Linked DNA regions of Homo sapiens: region 2 is linked to region 1. Evidence: fine-mapped expression QTL. A gene starts in region 1. The other region holds a variant in brackets. All regions are shown on one strand. Distances are from middle to middle.

What was found. PIP is the estimated chance that this variant, and not a neighbour inherited with it, causes the effect. A credible set is the group of variants that fine-mapping cannot tell apart.
Region 2: its variant is the best candidate, but not a certain one, in a credible set for the expression of RAB11FIP5 in whole blood (INTERVAL, PIP 0.77).

The regions. Positions count from the first base shown.
Region 1 is chr2:73,110,430-73,115,799 of GRCh38, reverse strand. RAB11FIP5 (RAB11 family interacting protein 5) reads left to right here and starts at 2,852. Exons shown (of 6, transcript NM_001371272.1): 1 at 2,852-3,453. The coding sequence starts at 3,023. RefSeq lists silencers at 2,524-2,683, 2,754-2,843, 4,001-4,244.
Region 2 is chr2:73,034,979-73,040,348 of GRCh38, reverse strand. All of the region lies in intron 3 of SFXN5 (sideroflexin 5), which reads left to right. Among named protein-coding and RNA genes, the nearest start is that of SFXN5, 34 kb to the left of the region's middle. RefSeq lists an enhancer at 2,840-3,725. The variant A/G (reference allele first, on the strand shown) is at 2,150.

The DNA of each region.
Region 1 (5,370 bases):
CGATGTTGGCTAACTGCAACCTCTGTCTCCCAGGTTCAAGTGATTCTTGTGCCTCAGCCTCCTGAGTAGCTGGGATTACAGGTGTGCCCCACCATGCCCTGCTAATTTTCATAGTTTCAGAAGAGACGGGGTTTCACTATGTTGGTCAGGCAGGTCTGGAACTCCTGACCTCAAGTGATCCATCCGCCTCGGCCTCCCAAAGTGCTGGGATTACAGGCATGAGCCACCAGGCCTGGCCCCATTTTTTATTTTTTTGAGACAAAGTCTCATTCTGTCGCCCAGGCTGGAGTGTAGCAGCACAATCTTGGCTCACTGCAACCTCTGCCTCCCAGGTTCAAGTGATCCTTGTGCCTCAGCCTCCCAAGTAGCTGGGACTACAGGTGCCCACCACCACGCCAGGGGAATTTTTTGTCTTTGTAGTAGAGGTGGGGTTTCACCATGTTGCCCAGGCTGGTCTTGAACTCCTGGCTTCAAGTGATCCACCAGCCTGGGCCTCCTAAAGTGCTGGGATTACAGGTGTGAGCCACTCCGCCTGGCTTGAGGTAAGAATCATTATCCCATTATCCAAATGGAGAAATAAGGCCAAGAGAGGTTAGAGAGTTGGCTTAAACTTCAGGTTTCATAGCTACTAAGAGGCAGATGGCCAATATCTGTAGGCAGATCTGGCTGTCTCTAAAGCTAGGTGCTATCGTCAGGGTTGCTGGACCATGGGGCTGGTGCCTAGGACTTCCCCACTCCAGTCTTCTGATGGAAGAGTTAAGGTGGGAGGCTGTGAGGACTGGGCCTGTGCTGGGTGTGCTATCATGGGTCTCCTCTGCCTACTCTACTGGTTTCCTAGGTTCATATTCCCAGTAGAGGACATGGCCTGGAAGGTGGACAGTTGAGGGGTACTGTGGAGTCTCCCTAAGAAGAAATACATGTTTCTCCTGTTGGGTATCCTATAGAGCACTGGTTCCCCACCTTTTTGACACCAGGGACCAAAATGTAAGTTTCCACAGACTGAGGGTGGCAGGGATGGTTTCAGGATGATTCAAGTGCATTACATTTACTGTGCACTTTATTTCTCTTATCATTACATTGTAATATATAATGAAGCAATTATATGACTCACCATAATGTAGAATCAGTGGGAGCCCTGACCTTGTTTTCCTGCAACCAGATGGTCCCATCTGGGGATGGGAGACAGTGACAGATCATCAGGCATTAGATTCTCATAAGGAGTATGCAACCTAGATCCCTCGCATGCACAGTTCACAATAGGGTTTGTGCTCCTAGGAGAATTTAATGCCACAGCTGATCTGACAGGAGGTGGAGCTCAGGCGGTAATGCGATAGGAAGCGGCTGTAAATACAGATGAAGTTTCACCAGCTAGCCCCTACCACCACTCACCTCCTACTGTGCAGCCCAGTTCCTAACAGGACATGGAGGGTTACCAGTCTGTGGCCCAAGGGTTGGGGACCCCTGCTATAGAGGAACTAAAAATAATAGCATAACTACACAAGATTGAGGGATGGAAGTGGGTGTGAGCCAGCTAAATCATTATCTATCATAGGAGGAAGGCAACAGACAGTGGCCAGTCCTGATAAATGCAGATGTAGCTATGTGAGCATCTTAATGTAGTGATGTGGAGGTAACCATCAGACCTGAAAACACCAGTGGCTTTAAGCAGCATCCCTGGATTGAAGGATGGAGAGGGAGTTCTTGCTTTTCATTGCAAGCCATTCTGTCCTATTTGATTTTTTTAAAAAAGCTGTGTGTATTATTTTTAAATTATTATTTTAAAAGTACAGGCTCTGAAAGTTAAAAAAAAAAAAAACGCTCTGGGGGCATCTAGTGGATTCACAACCCTCCCCCATCTGAGCTGACATTTTATCTTCTGGAAAATAGGGATAAAAGCCATACTCACCCCACAGAGTTGCTCTGAGGATAAAATGAGGTAATGCATATAAAAGCGCACTGACCAGAGTTGGCTGAAATTCAGCATCTATAATTACTAAACATCGTTATTATCAATAATAAACCAAGTATACGTTAATACTTAGGCCCTGGCACACAGTAGGCACTTAATAATGGGTGGAAGTAGTTATTTAACCCCCCACCAGGGCCTGTAATTTCCCCCAACCCGTGACACACTGGCCCCAAGGCTCCGAGTGAACACTTAAATATTGATGTGGTTACTCATTTATTCATCACTCGGCTCTCCGCCGCAGAGTCTGAGGAGGGTGAGCCCCGCTCTCGGGCCTCCCGCGCCGCCGCATGGCCGCATCCCGGCCCCCTGCGCCGGGAGAGATTGGAGGCGGCGGCAGCTCACCCGCTTCCAGGTCGCCGATGCGGGACCGTCACGTGGCGGGGCGGCAATCGCTCCAGTTTCACTCCGGCATTTTCCCCCGCAGGGGCGGACTGGAGGAGGGGAGAGCGCGGCCCGGGGTCAGGGGAGCGGCGGGGGTCCCCATCACCCCAAGTCCGCGCCAAGAGGCTGGCCATCCCAGGAACTGCGGGCCGGGACCCTTTTACGGAGAGGGCTTTCCGGAGCAGGGACTTTTAGAAGGAAGACGTGGGATTGGCCTGGAGGCGCAGAGCGGGTTTTTCGTACCTGGCCGCGGGTGTAGGGCTCCCCACAAGCGAGGCCGGGTTGCTTCGGGCGCCCCCAGCCAGGGGCGGGGCCACCGCGGGAACTCCGCCCACCCTCTGCAGAGGCCGCGCACCGCCCCTTCCCGCTCCGGGCTGGTCTGCGGCTGCCGGGGCGCGAGCTGCGTGCCCGCATCCCTGTCGCACCGCCTCGCCGGTTGGGGCGGCGGGCGCGGGGCGGGGCAGGGGGCGGGGCGCTGACGTCGCGGCGCGGCCCGCGGCCAGCGGCCCGGTGAGGCGGGGAGGCGGCGGCCGGTCGGCCCGGCCCAGCCCAGCCCGCAGCTGCGGCGGCGCTCAGAGTTGGTTCCTGACCGCCTTCTGCCGCGGCCGGGTTTGTCACCAGGTCCTGGGGTCTGCACCGGCTCGGCCAGACCTCGCCCCCCGCTTCTCCGCCATGGCCCTGGTGCGGGGCGCGGAGCCGGCGGCGGGGCCTTCCCGCTGGCTGCCCACGCACGTCCAGGTGACGGTGCTGCGGGCCCGCGGGCTGCGGGGCAAGAGCTCGGGAGCGGGCAGCACCAGCGACGCGTACACGGTGATCCAGGTGGGCCGCGAGAAGTACAGTACGTCGGTGGTGGAGAAGACGCACGGCTGCCCCGAGTGGCGTGAGGAGTGCTCCTTCGAGCTGCCGCCGGGGGCCCTGGATGGCCTGCTGCGGGCGCAGGAGGCCGACGCGGGCCCGGCGCCCTGGGCCGCGAGCTCCGCCGCCGCCTGCGAGCTGGTGCTCACCACCATGCACCGCTCGCTCATCGGCGTCGACAAGTTCCTGGGCCAGGCCACGGTGGCGCTGGACGAGGTCTTCGGCGCAGGCCGCGCCCAGCACACGCAGTGAGTAGGGGGCGCGGGGGCACAGAAACGGCTAAAGGCCTAACAGGGCGGGGCTGGTGGGGGATCAGGACCCCGAACTTCAGCCGGGCCAGTGAGCCCTTGCCTCGTGCTTAAGGGCGTAAACCGACAGAAACGTTGGTTCTTCGCATTTCGGGGTCGTCTTCAAGCTTCCCAAACGTGCGCTGTGTGGGGCTCAGCCACTGGTGGTCCCTGGGAGGCCTGGGGGAGGTTTAAGTGGTGGCGAACGTTAGGAGTAGATTGTCAAGTAAAGTTAGGAATGAGATTCAGAGGCTTTGGGGCTATGGAAACCTCAAGAAGGGAAATCTTGGGGCCGTTCTTAGAACCTCCGGGCCTGCCTCCCTTTCCTCAAAGGGGAGGGGAACTGCGGGCGCCTGTCCGGCAGGGGAGTGGAGAGGCGCAGCCTTGCCCTACGGGGGAAGGAAAGCCAGGTGTCTTCCTCCAGGGCGAGGTTGAATGTTGATTACCCCGCTAAACGTAGAAGCTGGCTGCAGGGGGCATCTGCCTCTTGCTCTCAAGATGCCCTCCACTATCTAGAGATGTCACCCCCCCACCCCCATCCTGTCCCTCTGTGTCCTGTGTCCCTGGTCTGAGGATAGGAGGAGCTTCTAAGTTAAGGAAGGAAACACTTGAGTCAGCCTTCCAGTGGCCTGCCTGCCTGCCCTGCCCTGCCTGAGGTAGAGGCAGCGGCATGGTTAATGAACAGCAGGAGATTATCTCCCGGTCACTTCCACCTCAGTGGGCCAGGGTTTTTTTAAATCATTTATTTTGGCAGCATTTAACCTTGCCTGTGTTAAGATCAAGGCTTCAGCCTTGGAGCCCCATTTCCTGTTTTGGGCTTGGGCAGGAGCTGGAAGCCAGTCCCCGGGGCTGACAGCCTGCTGTGGATCACTCAAGTGGTTAACTTGGGAGTGATCTGGGTAGGAGGGTAAGGGGATTGGGGCAGGACTGTGCCTTAGGTCAGGAGAGGTGCCGGAAAGGTTTGCCCCAGTGGAATGGCATCCACTGAGTGAATAAATCCAGGAAGGCTTGCTGGAGGAGGGGGATGAGCCTGGTGCAAACCCAAATGAAAGCAGGATTTAGGTAAAAAGGATCTGACCTTGAATGTTTTCTGAAACATGGGTGTGGAATGACTTTCCTGGCTGGCTCTCTGTGGTCTGGGATGGGGAGGGCGTTAGTGCAGGTTCCAGGCATGGCTGTGACCTGACTCCATTTCCCCATCCCCTGGCCTGCTCCCCGCCTTCCTTCATGACTTGCTGTTTGGTGGCAGGGTGTGGGATCATGTGGTATATAGCTTGGACCTTGTTTTTTTCCTCCTTTCTGTCCTCTCCCTCCTTCCTGGTTCCTGGAGCCCAAGGGGGTGGGTATATGGGGCGAAAAGCTCTCTCCTGGATCTCTTAGCCCATTCTTTTTCAGAAGAGGTGCCTATCCCCCAAATCATTCCACCCCTTCCCCCAGTCCTTCACCCTCCACCAATCAGCTACTCTGACCAGACTGTTAGATGACACATCTGTTCAGGGGGTGCTGGGGGAACAGGAGGAGGCAGACCAAAAAAAGGCTCCAGGCCTGCAGGGAGCAGCTTCTTTGATTGTTTTTTCCAGTTCCTGCCCTTGCTTTCCTCTTGGCCTCTGGATCTTCCTTAGCTGAGCTGGCCAAGCTTGTAGGTCCAGGTGGACCCATTTTCAGCCAAGAACAGCCTGTCTTGGAGAATTTGACTTACCACCCCTTGATCTGAATGGGAACCTTAATTTATTTTATAGAAATCATCTTTTCCACCAGGATCTTTCCACACCCACCTGGCTGTTTTCTCTGATGCAACAACCTGGTTTATTTATAGAACCGGGGGGGGAACAGGAGTGGGGAGGGTCACTTAGGATGGGCAGAGGAAAGTCTGTGAAG
Region 2 (5,370 bases), 75 kb after region 1:
ATATCGTGTAGGAACTCAAATTAGAGATACCTGAAATGTTGAAGGTGGTGTTTTGTTTTGGGGAGGGGTAAGGGAAGGTAGTAGTTAATGATTACAGAGACTGATGGTTCATGTGCCAAAGTCTGTCTTTTTGTTCATAAACTTTATTTCAAAAACTTTTTCAAACATTAATTTAAACATTTTCAAAGTCATGTGTGCATAATTCAAGAAGTCAAATAGTACTAAAGTGCTTGTAAGGGGCTGGGCACGGTGGCTCACACCTGTAATCCTAGCACTTTGGGAGGCCGAGGCAGGCAGATTGCCTGAGCTCAGGAGTTCAAGACCAGCCTGGGCAACGTGGTGAAACCGTGTCTTTACTGAAAGACAAAAAATCAGCCGGGCATGGTGGTGGACGCCTGTAATCCCAGCTACTCATGAGGTTGAGGCAGGAGAATCGCTTGAACCTGGGAAATGGAGGTTGCAGTGAGCCGAGACTGCGCCACTGCACTCCAGCCTGGGCAACAAAGCGAAACTCTGTCTCAAAAATTAATAGAAATAAAATAAAATAAAATAAAATAAAATAAAATAAAATAGTGCTTGTAAGGAAAAATAGTATATGTTCCCTATCCCTCCCCAGTTCCCATGCCTGTTCCGCAGGAGCAACTACTTTTTGCTGTTCTGCAGATAGAAATTTATATTCTATCTTTCAGACAAATATGCTTATCTACACTGCTATTTCTCAATTAGTTCTTTTGGGTTATCTATTATGGTAGTTGAGGATTCAGCTCTCTTATCATCCACCCCTCTAAACACACTTCTTTCCGCCATCCATACTCACTCTTGAAATAGTTATCATGGTTTTGGGGCCTATACATATTCAGTCTTCATGTCGTTACAATTATAGAAATAACATTTACTGCATAGTCAGACTGGTTGTATCATGATTATGTCTCTTTTTCAAATTTGTTTTATCTGGAGTTAATAACCACCTCAGATTTTTCATTGGCATACTTTCCTTTGTACCATCTCTCACTCTCACTGTACCCTCCCGCGGCCTTTCAATACAGTCATACACCACATAAAGACATTTTGGTCAATAAGGGATCACATATATGACAGTGGTTCCATAAGATGATAATGGGGGCCAGGCGTGGTGGCTCATGCCTGTAATCCCAGCACTTTGGGAGGCCAAGGCGGGCGGATCACTTGAGGTCAGGAGTTCGAGACCATCCTGGCCAACCTGAAGAAACCCTGTCTCCACTAAAAATACAAAAATTAGCCGGGCATAGTGGTACATGTTTGTAATCCCAGCTACTTGGGAGGCTGAGGAGGGGGGAATCACTTGAACCTAGGAGGTGGAGGTTGCAGTGAGTCGAGATCACGCCACTGCACTCCAGCCTGGGCGACAGAGTGAGACTGTGTCTCAAAAATAGATGATAATGGAACTGAAAAATTCCTGTTGCCTGGAGATGTCTTGATGATCCTGACCCTGTGCAGGCCTAGTCTGTTTGTTTGTGTCTTAGTTTTTAGTTAGTTTTAAGAGTTTAAATAGTTAAAAAAAAGTTGAAAGTTTTAAAATAGAAAACTTACAGAATAAGGATATAAAGAAAAATATTTTGTACAATGTGTTTGTGTTTCAAGCTAAGTATTACAAAAGAGTCAAAAATCTGAAATTTAAAATTTTATAAAGTAAAAAATATACAGTAAGCTAAGGTTCATTTTATTGAAGAAATTTTTTTAAGAGGCAAGGTCTTGCTCTGTCACCCAGGCCTGGAGTGCAGTGGGGCGATGTAGCTCACTATAACCTCAAACTCTCAGGCTTAAGTGTTCCTCCCACCTCAGCCTCCTGAGTAACACACCACCACACCTGGCTAATTTTTTTTTAAAATAAATTTAGCGTGCTTAAATGTATGGTGTTTATAAAGTCTATAGTACTGTACGGTAATGACCTAGGCCTTCACATTCACCCACTACACACTCAGTGACTCACCACAGCAACTGCCAGTCCTGCAAGCTCCATTCATGGTAAGTGCCCTATGCAGGTGACCATTGTTTATCTTTTATGCCATATTTTTACTGAACTGTTTCTGTGCACAAATATACACAAACCGTTTACATACACAAATATCTACCATTGTGTTATAGTTGCCTATATATTCAGTACAGTAAC[A/G]TACTACCCAGGCTTGTAACCAGGGAGCAGTAGGCTCTACCTACGAGGTAGCCTAGGTGTGTTGCAGGCTTGCCCATCTAGGTTTGTGTAAGGATGCTCTATGCTGTTTGCACAATGATGAAATCACCTAATGATGCATTTCTCAGAACATATCCCTGTTGTTAAGTGACGCATGACTGTATTTTCAGTGCTCCTTGCAATCTGAAGATTTCTGTCTTTGAGTTTCTTTTTGTTTTCCTGAAATTTTCCTTTCTGGGGCCTACCTCCGAGTTCCAGGTCTTCCTTTTTCTTGGTATATTTCATCATTTTGGTGGAACACCTCTTCTCGTAGCTTCCTGAAAAAGGGTAAATGAGAAGAAAGTTTTGAGTCTTTTTATGTCTGAAAAATTATAATTCTGCACTCAGCCTTAATTGACAGTTTGGCTGAGGAGAAAATTCTAGGTTGACAATCATTTTCCTTCAGATTTTTGAAGACCATTGCGCTATTTTCTTCTGGGTTCCAATATAGCTGTTGAAAAACCTGATGCCGTTTCATTCCTGATTCTTTGCGGTCTGTTTTCTTTCTTTGGAAATATTTAGGATCTTCTCTTTATCTGTGAAATTTGTTTCTGAAATTCCACAATGCTGTTTCTTTTAAAATTTATCATTTTGGATTCTTCATTACCCCTTTCAATCTGAAGACTCCTGTCTTCAGCTCTGGCAAAATTTTTAATTGCTTTCATCACTTTTTCTCATTCTGGAACTTCTGTTAGTCAAATATTAGCCATCATAGGCTGACACGTAGGTTTTCTCACCTTTTTTCTCTTCTATCCATCTCTATGGGCCAGAAGCGAGGGTAGGGCCTGGGGGATAGAGCAGGTAGGAAGCTGGATGAAGTTCCTGTCTACACCACCAGAAACCAGGCAGTGACAGTGAAAGCACATGATACCATGGGAGAGCCGTGGAAGGGGTGACCCTCCCAGACTGAGGGCATCTGGAAGAGATTTCTCCCCTGAGATATGAGGGCTGACAGGGCTGGTGAAGAGCAGGTGGGGGTGGTCCAGGCAAGGAGGTGCACACTGTGCTGGAGATCGAGGGAGCAAGACCCTACAGAAGGAGGGAATGGGCGAATGTGCTAGACTGGAGCATGGTGATGGGAATAGAGGGCAAATGCATGAGCGGAAGCAGCACCTTGGCCAGATGCCCCTGTGCAGGGCCCTGGGAGAGTGACAGACCCGCAGTGCCTGCTTACATGGGGCCCATCTGAAGGCGTGTGCACTGCGTGCTGAGTCATGGGCAGCCGTCAGCCGGGAGGGCAGGCTGCGATCTCCTCTTCCCTGAGCAATGGGACTTCTCTCTGGCCATGAGCACCTAAGAGCCTGGATGGTGTGACCTGGTACCCCACCCTACTCAGGCCGAAGCAGTCCCCAGCCCTTTTCGTGTTCTTCTGAGACCTGTGAGAGTTGGGTCCTGCCTCTATGGCCTCCTGACCATGTGTTTCCTCCTGGCCCAGGCTCCGCTCTGCCCTTTTCTTGCTGAGGTTGGCCTCTTGGGACCCCTTCCAGCTCCCAGAGTTTGGGGAATGAAGCCACATTTCCTCCTCTTTGCTCCCTTCAGTAGCTTGAAGCTGCCTGTCCTGTTTCCCAGGCCTCCTTTGTTTTCTGTCCTGAAAGCCCCCATGTGCCTCAAGGGAGCTGAGGAGGAGGGGAACTGGGTGGAGGGGCAGCTTGGCACTAACTGTGCTTCCCGATTCTGGCTCATGTTGGTGATGCCTGCAGTGTCCATCTGGTGGCTGGGTAGCACAGTGCTCTAGGTGTGAGCCTGCCACTATGGCCCCCTAGAGGCAGATCCTCCCTCTCCCTCCCTTCCCCCAGCCTCCTGGCTCCCCCAGCACCAGCTCTCACAAATGCTTCCCTCCCTGGGCTTCAGTCAGCCAATCTACACCTTCCTCTGGCCTCTGCAGACACAGGAGCAGAGGGGATAAGTGGTGACATGGCAGCTCAGGGCTTGGGGGGCTTGGCAATCCATAGTTAACAGTCACTGTTCCTGGCCCAGGCTGGCCCTGCTCATCTGAAGCGGCCCGGGTGGTTCTTGTTCTCAGTCTGGACAGTGGCCTCACCTGCACCTGGGCTCTGCGCCTGCTCTCATGCCTTTGCAGGTGTGTGGGCCAGAAGCCTGCAACTGGGTCCTGAGGCCTGCAGGCCTGTCCTGGTGTTGTGGGCAGTGCTGGTTAACTTGTGACACTCTCTTTTTTTACCCAGTTTGTCATCTAACCTGACCTCCAGGTACAACACCTCACCAGTGGGTATGCGCAAATGTATTGATTGTTTGTTTGCTCCTGATGGCCTTGGTTTGGTCTTCTGTTGTGGGTGGCTGCTCTCTCCTCCAGGGACCGTTACCTTGTTTAAAGGTTGCTATACCAGCCAAGCGTGGTGTCTCACACCTGTAATCCCAGCACTTTGGGAGGCCAAGACAGGTGGATCACCTAAAGTCAGGAGTTCGAGACCAGCCTGACCAATATGGTGAAACCCCATCTCTACCAAAAATACAAAAATTAGCCAGGCATGGTGGCATGCACCTGTAGTCCCAGCTACTCAGGAGGCTGAGACAGGAGAATCGCTTGAACCCAGGAGGTGGAGGTTGCAGTGAGCCGAGATCACAGCACTGCACTCCAGCCTGGGTGACAGAGTGAGACTCGGTCTCAAAAAAAAAAAAAAAAAAAAAAAAGATTGCGATACCAATGAATCACTGGTTCTGAGGACAAAATAAAAATGAGTATAATTTAACTTTTGGGTTTAGCAGGTGAAAATTTGAAGAGCTAGTAACCGTAATAAGGACTGTAGCTATCAGTTAAAAAAACAAAACCATGGTATACAAAAATGTAAGCATAGACACAGCCATTAAGTTTCTGAATGTTGACTCTGATCTGTACACTTGTATATGCTGGGGCTTTGCCAGAATGATTTGGTGTGGATGGAGGAGGTGGGTGGGGCTAAATATGGAAGACCCCTCCCCATGGTGAGCCACCGCTCGCTGCATGCTTACGAAGTGGCAGGTATTGCACCATAAGTACTAGCGCTTTCCACATATTATCTCAGCTAATCTTCACATAAACTTGTCAGTAGGTACCTGTATCAACCCAATTTTCCAGTGAGACTCAGAGAGGTTGCATTATTTTCCTAAGGTCACATAGCTAGTATGTGGTGGGGCAGGGATCTGACACTGGGCCTCTTAGATCTAAT